Homo sapiens: one gene and its partner. The protein of the gene in region 1 interacts with the protein of each later gene in a pairwise test. Each region holds a gene or a part of one and is shown on either strand. Other genes may lie near its edges. The genes, in order: LYRM1 and MTAP.

Evidence for each region.
Region 2: the proteins of LYRM1 (region 1) and MTAP interact in a two-hybrid assay, tested with the Homo sapiens proteins (one large-scale study listed by BioGRID and IntAct).

Annotation. Positions count from the first base shown.
Region 1 is NC_000016.10:20,903,675-20,907,502, reverse strand, and holds part of LYRM1 (LYR motif-containing protein 1), read right to left. Parts: intron 1-3,828. UniProt on the Homo sapiens protein: May promote cell proliferation and inhibition of apoptosis of preadipocytes.
Region 2 is NC_000009.12:21,864,289-21,867,589, forward strand, and holds the end of MTAP (S-methyl-5'-thioadenosine phosphorylase), read left to right. Parts: 3' UTR 1-2,793; downstream 2,794-3,301. UniProt on the Homo sapiens protein: Catalyzes the reversible phosphorylation of S-methyl-5'-thioadenosine (MTA) to adenine and 5-methylthioribose-1-phosphate. Involved in the breakdown of MTA, a major by-product of polyamine biosynthesis.

The DNA of each region.
Region 1 (3,828 bases):
TATAAGCCCAACACTTTCAGAGGCTGAGGTGGGAGGATCCCTTGAGCCCAGGTGATAAAGGCTGCAGTGAGCTATGATCACGCCACTGCACTCAAGCCTGGGCAACAGAGTCAGACTCTATCTCAAAAAATGAAAATAAAAAAGATGAACATGAATGCAACAAGAGCCTTTGGGAAAGGGGCCACAGGTCCACAGAATCCAGCACAGGTTGGGGGTAGGCCTTGGAAAGGCACTTTGTTTCTGGTCTTAAGCGCAAAAGACACTGGTAGATTTTATGCAAGCTGGAGTAACACGGTCTGATTTATATCTTTTTAAATACACTGTATATCAAACTACTGTATATCATAACTACTTATAATTCCAACACTTGTACAGATGGTGAAACAAGATCTTGCCTAATGCCCCTAATTAGTTGACAGGAGTCAGGGTCAAGAGCCAAAAAAGCTGGATGATCATTTTCCTGACTGACCACAAGCTTTTCTATTTTGGAGTCAGTAATGGGGACTCATAATGGGCAGCGATCAGTCTAAAAAACAAAAACAAAAACCAAACACCAAACACCCACCCACTCTGCCACTCACTGTCCAAAGTGCAGTGAGAGGGTCTGGGGAGGTTCCAAGAACTTACTGTACAAGGCATACCCAGACACTTGGTGTTTCTACAGGAGGACTATGGAAAGATCTGCTGGTATGAGGGGCCTCATCCACTGTGCCCTTTTACCCCACCTCTGGAACAGTTCCTCTGCCTTTGGAAAGACCATTGCAGCATGAACACTTAGGAATTTAAGAGCAGAGATGAAAATTCCCTTTCCCCAGCTGAGATTTATAGAAGTATGACTCTGGTCTCAGGAATGTCCAAATTCCAAATGCTGGACTCTCATGAGGCTTTGCCTTCTAAAGAAAATGTGTTGCAGTACAAATAAGAAATGGGACAAAGGCAAGAGGAATTTACCCTGATTTTCAAGCCCCAGGAAGTTAAACACCCCTTTCCATTTATTTCAGGAAAGACCTACCCCTAGGTGGAATTTTTTCCCTCATCAGAACTCATGACCGTAGTATAGTCAAATTTCTCTCCCAAGTACTTTATGATTTTTTAGCAAGGAGGGGGAATCATAAACTCCACCCAAATGAGATCATGGTCTTCTGTATGTGCAATGTCCCTCTTTTTGCCATAGGAAGCCTCTCTACTTCATACAACTGAAATACCCTTTCTTTGCCTATTTGCTGCTTCCACCTTTTGACTTCCATCACTTCTGGACGGGTGCCCTTTTCACACTGGGGCTGGGTCAGTGTCCCGGCTATGTGCACTCCTGGCACCTCTGGCATACCCCTGTCATAATGTTCATCCTACTCTATCATAATTTTGCATGACTTACCTTTCTTTTTCCACCATGTGTGTGTTGCAGGGAGTAGGAGGTGGGGAGAGCAGGGGGAGATTTGGGACTGTCTTGTACATTACATGCCTAGGCTGGCACATAGTTGGAACATGACAAATATGTATTAGAAGAATAAATTTACACACACAGAATGGTCATTGATAACGTATGTTCTCATCCTGAGATACACACGATGGTATCTGGACAAGCTTCCCAACTGATGATCCCAGAGCATTGAAGGGTTAAATACTAATTAACCCTTACTAGGATGCTTTCAAGAGCAGTGTGTGTCAGGATAAAGAACTGGAGACTCAGTGTTACTTGGGGAGGAATCCTCATCAGTTTCATCCAGAACAGCGTAAGAGACACAGCTATGATGTAACCCTCACTCTTAAGTTTTCTTAAGGCTGGTTAGGGTTTGTCCACTGGACTGAAATACCTTATAATATTTCCATGAAGTTTAGAACCAAACATAGAAGAATGGGGTTCTGATACTTTTTTCCTGAAAAAATCCTTTTGGGGAATAAGGTCCACTATACTCAATGATCATGGGTTAAAATCAATCTAGAAAACTGTGACTTAAAACTATCATTTGGAAAACCTCTACAGAATTGAAATGCTCTTGCTAATGTCAGAGCAACCAGATGTTCTTGCCCTGTATAGCAGAGTAGGGAATGTCTGTCCCATTTGTAAGGAATAGCAGATATAATACAAAATAAATGAACATTTATTTTGGGCTCTGGGCGGACAAGGCTGGGTTTGAATCTTGACTTTACCCCATTGGGCAAATTATTAACTGCCTGAGACTTGGTTTCTTAGAATGTACAATGGGGTAATAGCAGAACCCCTTTCAGAGTCGTAAGGATTATTCATGAAATAATCCATGTAACATCACTTAGCACTGAGAGTTAACAAAGGCAAATGTTACCTGAATAGGAGGAAACAGAGGAAGAACAACGAGGTCTCTTTTATCTATGCTAAGCTTTGTCTGAATAGGAGAGAAATGTGTGGCCTGTTGGTGAATTTATTGCTTTGTGGTAGTAATGGATTTTCCTAAAGCTGTTTCCCTCTGATCATTAATAATCCCTGTACAGCAAAGGACTATTGTTCTTTGGTATGAGTAAATAACCCTGTTGGAAGCACCGCTTATCTTCAGACCACAGCGCATACTTCTTACTGGAAATATAATGCAGGTGCCAACACCAAAGGCATGACCAGGCTTCCCTTCCTATTTTTCTTCCTTTATCTCTTACTCCTTGTTTATCCCTCAGGGCACTTTTCTCTTAGATCTGTTATACTCCCTCCTTTTTGGTGTACACCCATATTCTTACCCCAATCCAATAACCTTTAAGTGAAATTGTTCTCCATACATTTCTGGTCCCATATCCTCCTATCAATTAAACACACACACACACACACACACACACACACACACAACCACAGACTTATTTCCTGTTTCAGATTCAGTTTTTGGTTACTAGAATCCAAAAAGGGAAGTGTAATGCCTCACATGCCACACACTGTTTTGCAAATTTCAGGATATGCTTGTGTGGTATACTTAATCATACCGCAGCTATTTTATGAAACAGCATCTTTTTACACAGAAAATGATAAGAATATGGTCTGTCAGCAATAGGGGGCAGGGAGGAGAGGGTGGATGGCATTTTTATTTTACCTAAGGGAAAATAATTTAGTTTAGGCCCTGTAATATGGGAAGTTTTTAGAACACGGGGCCAAAACAAAAAATGTCTGAAAGACTTCTAAAATGTCTATCCCAAACAAGATCACAGGAGGCAAGCACACCCATTCTAAATATATCATACCAGCACCGGAGCGCACACAAGATTATATTTGTACAGGGGAACTCCAATCAGGCTACTGTAACCAAGATAACAACCAATAGATATACAGCTATTTTTCCCATCAGGGATAGAAGTTCTAAATGAAAAGTTATGGGCCCCTCAATTCAAAAGAAATGGAAGTATGTTTCCTTATTAGCATATTTTAACAGGCAAAGAAAAGGTACGGGTCAGTCAGAGGTGGTGAAAAAGCAGTCACCAGTTACTAGTAGTAGAAGGCAGTGGAAGAGATGTGGTGGGGGGGCTGGAATTGAAGGCCAATGCTAAAGATCATTCATTCATTCATTCATTCATTCATTCATAACTCCCCAGCCAGGATCTTTCACCCTTCATATCAAATCGAAAAGTCTGAGAACACAAGACACTGACTTAAGTTCTTGCTTTGTTATAGTTTTCTGAGGAACTGGATTAGGAAACTGACCAAAGAGCTTTGCATGCCACACTAGATACAGTTGGGGCTTTCTAGCACCTGACCCTTGATCCAACTCTCTGATAAATAACCACATTCTGTGCAGGGGTCCAGGCCTTCAGGACAGCTTCCTCCACCATCAAATAACTACTGAATGCGCAACTTTCCCATCTGCAGAGGCACCA
Region 2 (3,301 bases), on another chromosome or scaffold:
TGCTTGAGGATATTGTTGAAGAACACTTCCTGGAACACTTCTCACTTGTGATGCTGTACTAATTTTTTTTTTTTAATTTAAGCTAGTATACTAAGTGAACACCATGGTCAGTTGTGAGCATTTTGGTTTCCGCAAAGGATGGATGGTGAGCATCATGGGAAAGCTGTAGTTTAGTGACTTAGCCCTTAGTGATTAATAGATTTGCATGTACATAGAAGTCTTTGTTGGCCTTATAATCTGCTGTTATATTTGGCATGGATTTTCATGGTTTTGAGAATGACATCCTGGCCCTGTGGTCCCCGAGGGTCATGGTCCTTGTGACCTGGCCCCTGTTCACTGCCCCCTTCGCTAGCACGAGTTGCTGTGCAGGGCTGGAGGTAGCTACCATGGCTTGTTTCAAGGAAGGAAACTCTGGTACGGTGGCACCCTCAGGAGTGGAGGACAGTGAACTTCCTTGAAGAGGGAGTGACTAAGGTGACCTCCAACCTGCCCTGAGCCAGCTGCCCTGCAGGTGCCACGTGAGCCTGCTCTGGCATCCACAGGATGCTCCTGGAGCCTCTTCTCTGGCTGCTACCTCAGGGCATGGTTGTGGCCCCACCAACACCTATTTTCCAAATAATTATTCATTCTTGTGACAGTGGCCTGAACATGTTTTTAATTTTCTCAACAAGCATTTAGCCAGCACTTATCCAGTGAAACAATTTGATAAGGTTTCAAGGAGTATCTGATGGGTTAGGAAGTCACGAAATGAGGAGTTCTTGCCACATTTGCAGAGTCCCTCCTTGATAAGGTTTGGCGGTGTCCCCACCCAAATCTCATGTTGAATTGTAGTTCCCATAATCCCCACATGTTGTGGGAGGGACCCAGTGGGAGGTAATTAAATCATGGGGGTGGTTACCCCCACACTGCTGTTCTCATGATACTGAGTTCTCACAAGTCCTGTTTGTTTTATAAGGGGCTTTTCCCCCTTTTGCTCAACACTTCTTCCTGCCATCATGTGAAGAAGGACGTGTTTGTTTCCCCTTCTGCCACGATTGTAAGTTTCCTGAGGCCTTCCCAGCTATGTGGAACTGTGAGTTAATTAAACCTCTTTCCTTTATAAATTACCCAGTCATGGGCAGTCCTTTACAGCAGCATGAGAATGGACTAATACACTCCTCAAATGTTTTGAAGATTGTTGCACCTTGGAACTACCAGTGTGCACACAATCTGGCTCAATGTATATATTGGCCCAGCAAGGCAAAGAACTGAAGTTCCAGGATGGAAGAACCTGTGTTCTCCTCATAATAGTATAGAATAATTCAAGATAGGCAAGAAGGACAGCAGTAAATGAAGACCATGGAAGAAAAGAAGGAATGCCAAAGATCGAGGAAATCTACCAAGACTAGTAGGGTAGTCCAGAAGAAGCTGTTTCAGGGCCTGTTGCCAGCTATGCCTTTGAGAACCTCGGGATCCCAAAGAATGAGGGGAATTTCTTCAGAAAGACAATCTCGGCATGCATTATTTCTTTGTTTTGAAGATTCACTCATGTTGCATGCATCTGTAGCTTGTGCCTTTTTTATTGCCTAGTAGTATTCTGTCATATGCCTATCTTACAATTTGATTATCTATTCACCTGTTGATGAATGTTTGAATTTTTTCCATTTGAGGAATTTTATGAATAAAGCTGCTATAAGCATGAAATTACAAGTCTTTTTGTGAACATATTTTCACTTGTGCAAATGCCTATACTCCCACCAGTAATTTGTAAGAATTCTTGACAAAGCTTGGTATTGTCAGCGTTTTTAATTTTAGCCATTCTATTGGGTATATTTTGATATCTCGTGGTTTTGATTTGCATTTTTCTGATTAAAGATGTTGAACTTCTTTTCATGTGCTTATTGGCCATTCACATATTTCGTGAACTATCTGTACAAATATTTTTGTTTATTAAAAAATTAGATTGTTTTGTTTTATTATTGAATAGTAAGAATTGTTTATATATTCTGGATACACTCTTTTTCAGATATGTGTGTTGTGACTATTCTTAGTCTTTAGCTTGCCTTTTCATTTTCTTAATTATGTCTTTCAAAGAACAAGTTTTTCATTTTGACGAAGCCTAGTTTATCAATTTTTTTTATGGTTGGTGCTTTTTGTGTGTTCCAAGAAATCTTTGCCTACTCATTTAATTACCTGTGTGCCCTTGTCAAAATCATTTAATTTTGACTACTCACTTAATTACCTTGCCTACTCATTTAATTACCTGTGTGCCCTTGTCAAAATTTACTGTTTATCTGTGAATCTGGATGATCTATTTATGTCATTTATCTATGTGTCTCTTCTTATGCCAGTACCCCACTGTCTTGATTATTGTGGCTTTATGGTGTCTTGAAATTAAGTATTGTTAAGCTTTGCAATCTTTTCCAAGATTGTTTTGGCTATAGGTCCTTTCTTTATAAAGTTTATATTAAGCTTCTCCATTTTTCTTTAAGAAAAAATCTGCTGGAATGGCACTGAATTTTTAGGTCGATTTGGGAAGAATTGACAATATTGAACCTTTCAATCGATGGACATGGTATGTTTCTGCATTTATTTGGGCCTTTTAAAATTTATCTCAGCAATATTTTGTAGTTTTAGTGAAGAAGTCTTGTATATATCTTTTGTTAAATGTATTCCTAAATATTTTGTGGAAATGTTACTGTAAATAGTACTTTAATTTCATTTTTAAGTTTATTGCTGGTATACAGAAATATGTTTTATTTTTGTATATTGACTTTATATTCTGTAATCTTATTAAATTCACTTAGTTCAGTAGTAGTTCTTATTTTTATTTTATTGCAAGTGCCTTAGGGATACCTTGTGTACACAATCATGTCATATATGAATAACAACAGTTTACCTTTTGTTTCTTCTTGCTTTGTCGTAATGGCTAGGACCTTCAACCTAATGTTGAATAGAAGCGGTGTGTGAGTTGTTACTCTTGTCTTATTCTCAACAGCAGAGGATAGCGTCTAGTTTTTCACTATTAAAATATGTTAGCTATAGGTTTTTTCCGTTTCATGTTTTTATCAGATTGAAGATCCCTTTTATTCCTATTTTGCCAAGAGTGTCATGAATGCATGTTGAATTTCACCAAGTACTTTTTCCTGCATCTGTTGAGAGAATCTTGACTTTTCTCTTTTATTTTGTTAATGTAGATTCTTTAATGTTAAACTGATCTTGCATTCCTGATATAAACCATACTTAGTCATGATATGTTATCCCCTTTATATAATGCTGGATTCGGTTTGCAAATATTTTGTTTGATTTTTGCATCTATGCT